Homo sapiens: one gene and its partners. The protein of the gene in region 3 purifies or fractionates together with the protein of the main gene of each other region. This does not show direct contact. Each region holds a gene or a part of one and is shown on either strand. Other genes may lie near its edges.

Region 1 (3,653 bases), on a different chromosome or scaffold from region 3:
TCATAAACATACTAAAAACTACTTATTGTATGCTTTAAAAGTATAAGTTTTATCATGCAAATAATTTCTCGATTTTTAAAAAGAATGAAAGTAGAGAAAAACATACCATGTCTCAGTTATCTTACTCTCAAGTATACAAATCTTCAGAAATTTTGTCCTCAGTTAAACTCTATCTCCTTACAAGACTACCCAGATTTCCTAGGCAGACTCAGAGGCTAGCTTCTTAAAAATGCATCTGCTTTTTAGAGAATTACTCTGTTGGATTATATTTGTTTTCTTATACATTTGTCTTCTCCACTAGATTGAGTTTCTTGAATATAAAAAAAGGTCTATCCACTTATTTTTATCCCCAGTATACAGCTGGGGTTAAAAAAAACTAATGGAATATGACAGAACATCCAGTACCATTCCAATGAGTAAACATATCTTGTAACTAAAAGTTACTGTTTTGCCTAACAAAGTACATAAATGACCTCTCTTCATAAATTTTGGTACAATTTTTAATCTGTTTCTTTCAAGATGTGTAACCACAAAGGGGAAAAACAGGTAAGAAAGAACTTATGTAAGTATTTGTCAAAACTATCCCTGTTGTCAATTCATTCATCTCCATCATAGAAGTAGCTGGAAATTGAACTGCTGAATCTAATTTCAACCATTACCTACAATTCCTTTTTTTTTTTTTTTAATGAAACGCTTCACAAATTTGCGTGTCATTCTTGTACAGGGGCCATGTAATCTCTGTATCATTCCAGTTTTAGTATACTTGCTGCCGAAGCAAGCACTAATTCTCAAAGAGTTCATTTTCACATGGGTAATGAAAACCTTTTTCTGCTCCTTTACTATTAGCAATCATTCCTATTGCTTATTCTAAATTAAGCCTTTATTGGCCAGGCATAGTGGCTCACGCTATAATCCTAGCACTTTGGAAGGCCGAGGTGGAATAATCCCTTGAGCCTAGGAGTTTGAGACTAGCCTGGGCAACATAGTAAGACCCCGGTCTCCATAAATAATAAAAAATAAATTAAATATTTTAAAAATAAAATAAATTAAGCCTTTATTGATGGTTTTTTTCTATTAGAAATTAAGATTCACGTTGATTTTACCATTATTCCATTATATGTGAAGTATCTACAATGTCCTAACTCTTATTAATACCTTTTATCACCACAGCTTCATCAGTATAGAGGTAGTCCAAAATAACTTTTAATATATCAGAATGTATTGGCATTTCCAGAGCTGCACAACTGGAAGCCTAAATAAAATAAGACAAAATAAAGTAAAATAATTCATTCTAAACAATAAAATATTACATTCTAATTTGGGTTATTGGTACAAAACACTCTGAACAGGAAATCACATCAAATGCAAAACATAAAATTTACAAAACACATGGCTAAAATAATATTAAATTTAATTTTAAAACATAACATGAAAAAGGAACAAAAAAATTCAGAAAACAAGAAACACAGTGGTGTTCCTAATACATTTCTAAATAATAACGGGGAAATTTTTATTTAAGTAGCTTCTTGGCAATAATTTTAAATTCTAAGTGTTGCTATTTTCCAGCAGCCTCAAGCATAAAGTTTAATATAAATGAAAAACTGAGCTAAAATATCCAGTTCTGATTTTGAATTTCTTTACTACATACTTTGCACAAAATATAAAGAAACATAGTTACCAACCTAGGCGCTTTTTACTTAAATCTTACCTCAATCCATGAGCTACTCAGCATACTATGAAAATATTCTAAAAGAAAAAAAAGTTCAATGCAATAAGAATAGTGAAACAATACTACAGCAAATAAATCAGCAGCTTTAAAAAGTGCACCTACCAAGTCTAGCACAAAGAACACATTTATGACAAGGAAATTCCTTTCCATCCACTGATTTCATGGTCACGTCACACAGAAATGAACTGCAAGAAAATGTTTAATTGAAGCAAGAGCAATTTCTTTACATATTTAGTGAAAAAGATTATAGGATTTGGCTTAACTTTCAGTTTTCTCTTAAAGGTGGCAGAGAATAAATAACTTGCAGGAATACATACAATAAAATACTTCATCTTTTTCCACCACAGGGAAGATAAGGGCCTTAGAGTAAAGACAATATTTGAAAAGGGAGCCGAATACAAATATTCAAAAAGTATTTTTCTGATTTTCCTTTTTTTTATTCCAGAAAAACTGTTAATAATATAATACTAAGTGATATCATATTTAAGTCTCTGTAATTCACTTATTTGTAGTAGCTAATCTGGGCCAAGCACAGTTGAAACAACTCCACAGTTTATCCTTCTCCAAAACCTTTTCACTTACAGAGGAAGCATGAATAGCTAAAAACAAAACTTTTTTTTTCTTTGAAACGGGGTCTCGTTCTGCCACCCAGGCTGGAGTGCAATGGTGCAATCTTGTCTCACTGCAACCTCCGCCTCCCGAGTACAAGTGATTCTCCTGCCTCAGCCTCCCAAGTGGCTGGGATCACAGGCACCCGCCACTATGCCCGGCTAATTTTTGTATTTTCTTCGTAGAGACAGGATTTCACCATGTTAATCAGGCTCTTGACCTCAGGTGATCCACCTGCCTCGGCCCCCCAAAGTGCTGAGATTACAGGCGTGAGCCACCACACCAGGCCCTAAAAACAAAACTTTTTAACAATATATTTAGAATAGTATATTTATTACTAAGAATTTTTTATACTAAAGGCAATAATCATAACAATGATGAAGAGGTATAATTAATTGGTTTGGGGGCTAATAACATTTCCTAATTATAACAAGGCACAAAATTCAGGCAAGAAAAAATAAAAATTAAAAGTTCCACTCTCTATTAGAAAGTCATCGGAAAGAAAAAACTCCTTTGATGTCTTCAGCAGTTAATATTTTATCAATTTACTTCAACAGCTCCCCAACATTTCCAGAAATGCAGAATACTAGAAAAGGTAAGAGGGTATCTACCTATACATTTTGCTTCATATGTGGGTAAGCAGAGATCTATTTCCACACTTAAGTGCCAAAATCCAGACATGAAATGTTAATCTTCCTTTCCTTACTTACCATTTTTTCTGACTTAGCTTCAGTTTATTACCAGTGTTCTTGGCAATAACATTAATTTTTTCATTTTCAAATCTGACTCCATCTAACCTATCAAGGATAGATAAAAATTAACAATTGATATTCCCCTACAAAAATAAACATACAACAAAAAATCCAACAAATTAGCTTACATCTAAATATAATACTGTATCCTAGAAAAGTATCTCAACAAACTCCTACTCTGAGATAAAGAAATATCATACTTTTTCTTCCATTTTAGTTAGAATTCAAAATAGATTAAACATTACTGACAAAAGACAAATCAAAGCCATAGCACAAAGTTTTTCCTTTTTTTTTTTTGAGACGAAGCCTCGCTCTGTTGCCCAGGCTAGAGTGTGGTGGCATGATCTTAGTTCACTGCAACCTCCACCTCCCAGGTTCACATGAATCTCCTGCCTCAGCCAACCCAGTAACTGGGACTACAGGCATTCACCACCATTCCCGGCTAATTTTTGTAATTTTTTGTAGAGACAGGGTTTCGCCATGTTGGCCAGCTTGGTCTCAAACTCCTGACCTCAGGAGATCTGCCCACCTCAGCCTCCCAAAGTGCTGGGATTACAGGCGTG
Region 2 (3,653 bases), on a different chromosome or scaffold from region 3:
ATTTTTGTAATTTCTTTTACTAGAGGTAAGGTTTTGCCATGTTGCCCAGACTGGTCTCCAACCCCTGGGCTCAAGGGATCCGCCTACCTCAGCCTCCCAAAGTGCTGGGATAACAGGAATAAGTAAGCCACCAGATCCAGCCTGAAACCTATTTTTCAATTTTCAAACATATGCTTTCCAAATACGTAAACGCGCAGAACATAAATGGGACACAGTAGTTTAACATAATTGTTGAATTATGAATAAAATTTTACAGGCTGGGCAACGTGGCTCACATCAGTAATCCCAATACTTTGAGAGGCTAAGGTGGGAGGATTGTTTGAGGCTAGGACTTCAATACCAGCCTGGGACACATAGTGTGACTGTTTCTACAAAATAAAAAATAAATTAGCCAGGTGCAGTGGTGCGCAACTGTAGTCCCAGCTACTCAGAAGCTGAGGTGGTATAATTGCCTGAGTCCAGAAGTTCGAGCCTGCAATGAGCTATGCTTGTGTCCCTGCACTCCAGCCTGGGTAACAGAGCAGGACGCTTTCTCAAAAAATAAAATTTTACAAACATATCAGCTATGAAAGTAGAAAACAGGTTACTCTATATTTTTGTTGCAGCTCAAAAAAGAGTTTTAATTTAGCACTGAAAATTCATATGAAATACAAGTAAACAAATGAAATAAAACTTCACAGAAAGTGGGGGGGGGAAAACATCACTGCACTAAATGGACCTAAAATGCATTATTCTCAAGATCCTTGGGCCCATTCCTAGCCTTCTTTTGTATTATTTTCCATGACAGAGTCTAAAGTCTGCATTTATGAAGTTTTGAATTCCTGTTATCTATAGAAAGTTGCTAACAATGGAGAAACTTAGTATTATCACTGAACAATTAAAAAGCTCCCTGTGACAAACTTTTATTGAGAATAATATAATTTGGAAATGAAGTTCTTACAAACCTGGGTCCAATAACAGGAATAAGTAACACATCTTGAAGGTCTGGATGTTGAAGAATAGGAACACTTAATCCATTAAACTGCTGTTAAAGATAAACATGATTATAAAGTAATCCATACATTTGATACATTTCAACTTATGGAACTTTTCAGTATCATCATCTACCACAGCATGAAGCCCTAGTAGCTCTGGGGCATTTTCACCTTATTCCACGGGATACTGTAAAAATCCAAAAGACCTCAAAACAACAATGTTTTCTCTATTTTAATTCTGAAGTATCCTAACTTCCTTATAAGACTCAATTTTGCTTACTATTTGGCATTATAAACACAAACCGTGGTTACCCTAAATGATTTACTTTAGAAACTTTTATTTAATATAGAATTACATGTAGTATTCCTTTAAGAAAAGTTTCTGAATAAGATGTTAAAGACTGAGATTACTATTGATAAATACTACCTAATATACACAATCAACACTGGCATCCATGTCAGCTTTGGTGAGGAAAAGAAATGTTTATGGTAGAGGTTTGGGATTTTCAGTATCCTCTATTATAAGGGAACCAGAAGATTATCACACTGAAAGCAGGTACAGGTGCGGGAGCCAGCTCACACCAGCTCAGGAGAGCCACTGCATGCATCTCTTTCCAATTCCATGGTCACACATGTAGCTACCAGGGAACATGGTGAGTATTTATACCACAGAAATCAACAAACACCACAAATTGGGGTTATTTTTCCCAGAAAGGGTTTGTTAAATATGTACCAGCATACCACTGTCACAAGCAGAAGACAATTGGACACCCTACACAGAATAAAAAACAGCTGCATAGGGGACTGGATGACAGGGACCGTATACTCTATTAGAGGGCAGCACGCAAATATCTGACAACAAGTCTGCCTCGTAGGTTAGGGTTTATCAACTCCATTTTCACATACTACATAAAAGACCAATCACCACAATGCATGTTTGCATTGCCCCACAGGATTCATACACTATCTACAGAAAACTTCTGAGATCAACTTACTGATTTCTAAGTTGATAAGGAAACAGAAAATAATCGTGCATATTTTAGAAATAAAACTTCATATCTACCAAGTCACCAGCTCTCTGAACTTCTGCTTCTTCCAAAGGGTCTAGTTATCCAACAGATAACTAATAAGCAATCTGAAAGATAAATTCCACCTCAATCAATCAAATCCTTCTTCCTTTCTCTTTCCCTCCCTCCTTCATCATTTTGATAGCCTTACAGTATCAATTATAGGGAACAAATCTTGCCAAAGAGAAGATAATGAACTTTGATTTTTGTTTTGTTTTATAAGTAACATTTGATTTAGACTATAGAAATATCTTATACAGAGATCAAAGCTTCTCAAGCCAAAGGTCATTGTCTCTCCCTTTCGATTAGAAGCATGTTAATATATAAATAAAACCCATAAAACCACACATGTACATACCCTTCATAACACACGTTTTTTTCCAAACCAAGTATATCACCAGCTTCTTTTAATGTTGGTTTCTGCCCAATGCTATTTTAAAACAGCCTTATTGAGATAATTTACATACCATAAATTTCACCCATTTTAAACGTACAATTCAATGATTTTTAGTAAATTTAAAGAACTGTACTCCAGTTTTAGACAATTTCCATCATCCCACAAAGATCCTTCACGCTCACTGGCAGTCAATCCCTGTTCCCATTGCTAGGCAACCACTATCTTTCTTTCTCTATAAATGTGCCTTTTTCTGGACATTTCACATAAATGGAATACAAACCAAGCATCCCTAGTCTAAAAATCTGAAATGTTACAAATCCAAAACTTTTTGAATGCTGACATGATGCCAGAAGTAGAAAATTCCATACTTGACCCAGACTGGTCAAAGTCAAAATGCAGGCTCACAACACAGTTCATCCAGCCTATTGTGTTTTTGTTGTTGTTGAACAGCTAATTCAGGTACTCTGGTGATGCTACTGTGCTGCTTAGTTACCCTGAACACATTATTTTTTTCACTGTATTAAGGTATGTCTTTTTTTTTTTTACTGTTAAGTGCTTACATATGAGTAAGTACAAGAAAATGTTGGCCGGGCGCAGTGGCTCATGCCTGTAATCCCAGCACTTTGGGAGGCCGAGGCGGGTGGATCACGAGGTCAGGAGATCGAGACCATCCTGGCTAACATGGTGAAACCCTGTGTCTACTAAAAATACAAAAAAAAAATTAGCCGGGTGTGGTGGCGGGCGCCTGTAGTCCCAGCTACTCGGGAGGCTGAGGCAGGAGAATGGCGTGAACCCAGGAGGTGGAGCTTGCAGTGAGCCAAGATCACGCCACTGCACTCCAGCCTGGGCGACAGAGCGAGACTCCGTCTCAAAAAAAAAACAAAAAAAAAAAACTGAAAACGTGTAGGTCAGGCACGGTGGCTCACTCCTGTAATCCCAGCACTCTGTGAGGCCGAAGCAGGTGGATAACCTGAGGTTAGAGGTTTGAGACCAGCCTGGCCAACACAGTGAAACCCTGTCTCTACTAAAAATACAAAAATTAGCTGGGTGTCTTTGAGCGCACCTGTAATCCCAGCTACTCAGGTGGCTGAGGCAGGAGAATTGCTTGAACCTGGGAGGCAGAGGTTGCAGTGAGCTGAGATCGCGCCATTGCACTCCAGCCTGGCTGACAGAGCGAGACTCCCTCTCAAAAAAAAAAAAAAAAAAAAAGAAAAT
Region 3 (4,268 bases):
TTAGCCACAGAATAGAAGGAATCCAGGACCCTGATCTTAGCTTGACTTTGAAGAATCCTTGAATATCTCCCATAATTTGAAAATGAATTGTTATGACAGCCTGCTAGCTTCTGTAGAGACATGAAAGGGATACAAATAATGGTTAATTTTTACTAGATGCTTACCAGATGACAGGGCCTATGCTAAGTACCTAATATATTAAGTTGAATTGTTTGAAACTTCTAATATCTGATATTCGATCTGCCAAATAATTTCAAAAAGTTCAGCCTAAAGACATTATACCTCTGAGTCTTTGCCATCTTCCTATGAAATGGGTACTATTATCACACCCATTTTACAGATTGAAAATGAAGCCTTTAATTTAAAAATGAAAATGTTCTTCCCATAAGTGTAATGTTATTTACTTATGAGTAATATTAATGCAGCCTTGTGTGCAAATTGGTGGCCTGAAACCATGTAGTATACCTAAGACATGAACAATAATAATTCACATATATTACCTTTTTCAGGGAACTTGGATAAATTTCTAATTAATAAACTTCTATAATAATTAAATAATTAAAGAAATACTTTTAAAATGTTATTTATAAGAGTAAAAAAGGCATTAGAAAACAAGAAATTTGATGTTTGGACATGTATTCTCTATATCTCACATGGAAGAATTAGAAACTGTAGCCTAGGGCTCCCCAGAATGAAGTAATTGTCTTGAAATTTTCCATAATGCTCAGATAAAGAAGTAGGGTGATTTTACAACCTTGTCTACATGCAAATTATGACCAATAATATTCTGAATTAAGGCCATCTGGTTTTGTGATTACTTACAAATAATATTGAGCTGAATTCACAATCAGTTCACAAATAGCAGTTGGGCTAAGGAATTATTAATACTAACTAAATGAGATGATACTATGTTGAATCAGAAAAACGAACTGGTGAAAACTGCAAAATGGACTTTGAAAAAAATATTTAAAGGTACATGACTGTTCTTTCAATATGAAACAAAAACTTTAAATGTTCCATTCACAAAAAAGCATTGAGTAATGCCATGCGATTTATTAGCTCTACATGATAAATCCCCCAAGTTCACAAACTGGGCTCCTGGCCACCTAGCAAAGAGGACTTGCACGTAATTCCATGTGTTTTCTGATTGACTGGTAAATTGTTATCAGTAAGAGTCTGATAATAAGACAAGCAATTCTTTTCACTTCTAAAGAGGCAGAGCTATTTCGCCTGCAACTTTTTTGTTTTCTGTATTTTTTTAATTCACAAAAGACATGCAACACCTGCAACTTTAAAAAGTGAGGCATCCATAGGCTCTATACCCAGCCTGACCTCCTCTGGAGCTCCATCTCATGAAGTGCTTTAAACCCTGGCACACCAAAGAATCCCAAACTCATGCCACCACCTACTAAGTCAGACTCCAACAAAGAACTGGAGCACTTTTGTTTCTAAGTGACCATCAGGCACCTAATATTATTTTCCCTTCAGTAAAATATAAGTGATAATCCTTGTCCTACCCCACTAATGATGTAAAAATAATATAACCATACAGTAAGAAATCAAACATGCTTTGAAAAATTGCAGCATAGGGCTAAACAAGAGCCACTGCATAAAGCAAAGAAGTTTTGAAGAAGAAAGGGATCTTGAAGGTTGTTATTTCCAGTTTTTTCATTTTATGAAGAAAGAACCTGAAACAGGAGGTAGACATTTGCCCAGACTGGATCACCTACTGAGAAGTAGAGTTTGGTCTCCTGACCCTTTGTCCAATGCTTTTTCTACCAAACTACATTATTAGGATTATTCCTGTTGCTTTTGTTATTAGTGATGTTAAGAAGCACAAGACTATTTTTAGATAAAGAGATAGACTGACCTAGCAAAGCAGCCATACTCCTTCTGGGTAAGAACCGCTGGTCTGCACTGCAGAAACTTTGTTCTTAATAACCCTGGTGTCCTAAGAAGTCTATCAAGAGATGAAGAGGTTTGCCATTGTGCCTTACAACTTTTAGATAATTAAATGCCTGGGAAATCTTATTTCAAGATCAGGCTAGCGACGAGTATTGAGACAAACAGAGTTATTCATGAAAACGTTAACACTGAACCCAAAACTTAACCATTCTAAACACCAGTTTCTTCCACTAAAAAATAAGAAAGCTGGGGTAGATCATCCCATTGAATGCTAGTGTTGTATTAATCTATGTTTCATTAAATTTAGTATGTTTCATTAAATTTAGTATGTTTCATAGAAAGTTCAAGTTTTATCGAATCATAATACTTGCTACCTAAAATGTTATTCATAATTTAAAAACCAAACATAACCTTGCAGGGGGAAAAAGCTGATGAATGTTAAATTTACAGTTTTTAGAACTGAAATCACCTAGCACCACCATTTCACCTCTTGACTGCTCTCTGCATTCTCCTCTGATTACTTTTACTGTACTTTTTATGTTGTTACAATAAGCATGTTTGTGTTTCCTGTGCTCTATTTTATGCTATGTATATATTTTTGCATTAGCCCAGTCCAAACATAAAATGCTATGCGAAAAAAGACAAATGAAACTGCTCACATACCCCATGACGATCTTCAAAGTATGCCAGGCTGGCTTTGGTTAACACAAAGAAGCGGACTTTAAAGTTCGAGGGAGAAGTTCTTCTCTTTTGTTGGGATTTCTTGATGAGCTGTTCTTCCAGGAGGATAAAGTTGTTCATGATCCAGTTCTTGAAAGGTGGTGCACCTTGGGCATCACCTCTTAGCACAACCAAAGGAAAGAGTTTTGGGGCAAAGAATGCAATGTGGAGGCAGTTGATCTTCAGAGAGCTGCTCAAGGGCAACTTGCCTTCAACGTTATCTTTCTATCAACGTTCAGCCAACATAGCTGAGCTTCTCCTCTGATGTCAAAGGCCGAAACCACATCCTTTCAAAATTCACAAAACGAGGAGGCATATGTAAAAAATACATACAGCCTTTGCTAATGGCTTGAAATGATATTTGAAAAACTGTAAACTCAAAATTGTGGTAAGGATTACAGTTTAATCTTTATAGTTCCTGGTTTAATCCATCCAGCAGTTAAATCATGTAGCACAAGGAGTAAGGACAATGTGTGGTTTTGCTTACCATGATATACTCAGCAACCATCACAGTACCTGACACATAAAACAGATGTTCAAGAAAAATTTGTTGAATGGATCATCACCAAATTGGGTTGGACAATTAAAAGAGGTAATGAGCACAAAACCCTCACACATTAAAGTGAAGAAATATGTTGCTGAAGTTTATTAGTTTTTAAGATTTAAATTAAAGCCCATAGAAATTTCTCAATGCTACATATAGATGACTGCCTTTCTGTCCTGACGTTTTGTGGAAGAGTGAAAAATAAGTGAATCCTTCAGAATGGCATAATAAACAAAGTATATGTGGGCTTTGAAAACAGACAAACTTGTGTTGGATTCCCAGCTCTGTCACTTACTATGCTGTTTCTCTTTGAGCAAGCCATGACTTCTCTGATCCTTAGCTTCCTTGTGAGGGTCCTTTGGAGGACTGAATCCCATACATCTTATGAATGGTAGGTGCTAGTCATACATGTCACCTTAGAGTTAGTACATAGTTGAAGTATAATGTGTGACAGTTACCTCTACTATGTTAATAATCAAGAGATTTTAGTGTAAGCAGATATTGCATGTAGTGGGTAGGGATAAATAATAAATGAAATAATAATTATTGCTGTATAGGAGTGAAATTCTCCAATGTTTATTTTTAAATGTAAATTACCAGACAACAGCCTAATTTTATTTCATATACTGGATGCCCCAGCATAATCAAGACACCCAGGAGGGTACGGTACTGGTATATTTTAAATTACCTCCCCCATTCTGAGATTCTTAAGACATATGTGTGGAAATACACTGCCCAAACAAGATAGTATTTTTTTTTTCTGAGTATGGGCTTGAGGTAGGGATTGCTACTATTCCCAAATAGCTACTCTCTCCTTCTTACTAGAGTAACAGAATCCCTGACAGTTATCTGGGCATCTGGCCAGCAAGAATAAAGACTACAAATTTTAGCCTCCCTTGTAGCTAGGTGTAGTTGTATGACTGTCTTCTGGTCAACTGAATGTAGCAGAAGTCGTGTGCACAACTTCTAGGAAATTTCCTTAGTGGGATCTGTCATCCCCTTTTCTTTCCCTTTTCCTCCTGCCTTGTGACTAGAATATTGAGGTAACAGTTGGAGCTGAAGCAGCTATCTAGTATCATGAGGTGGAAATTGAATGTTG

The links.
Region 1: the proteins of ITK (region 3) and IBTK purify together in Homo sapiens (affinity purification with western blotting, with the first as the bait; one study listed by BioGRID). This does not show direct contact.
Region 2: the proteins of ITK (region 3) and NSUN6 fractionate together in Homo sapiens (co-fractionation; one large-scale study listed by BioGRID). This does not show direct contact.

Annotation. Positions count from the first base shown.
Region 1 is NC_000006.12:82,209,659-82,213,311, forward strand, and holds part of IBTK (inhibitor of Bruton tyrosine kinase), read right to left. Parts: intron 3,136-3,653; coding exon 3,049-3,135; intron 1,915-3,048; coding exon 1,832-1,914; intron 1,747-1,831; coding exon 1,709-1,746; intron 1,253-1,708; coding exon 1,156-1,252; intron 1-1,155. UniProt on the Homo sapiens protein: Acts as an inhibitor of BTK tyrosine kinase activity, thereby playing a role in B-cell development. Down-regulates BTK kinase activity, leading to interference with BTK-mediated calcium mobilization and NF-kappa-B-driven transcription.
Region 2 is NC_000010.11:18,641,532-18,645,184, forward strand, and holds part of NSUN6 (tRNA (cytosine(72)-C(5))-methyltransferase NSUN6), read right to left. Parts: intron 2,110-3,653; exon of another isoform or gene 2,038-2,109; intron 1,025-2,037; coding exon 945-1,024; intron 1-944. UniProt on the Homo sapiens protein: S-adenosyl-L-methionine-dependent methyltransferase that specifically methylates the C5 position of cytosine 72 in tRNA(Thr)(TGT) and tRNA(Cys)(GCA). In vitro also methylates tRNA(Thr)(AGT).
Region 3 is NC_000005.10:157,179,416-157,183,683, reverse strand, and holds the start of ITK (tyrosine-protein kinase ITK/TSK), read right to left. Parts: upstream 2,845-4,268; 5' UTR 2,707-2,844; coding exon 2,569-2,706; intron 1-2,568. UniProt on the Homo sapiens protein: Tyrosine kinase that plays an essential role in regulation of the adaptive immune response. Regulates the development, function and differentiation of conventional T-cells and nonconventional NKT-cells.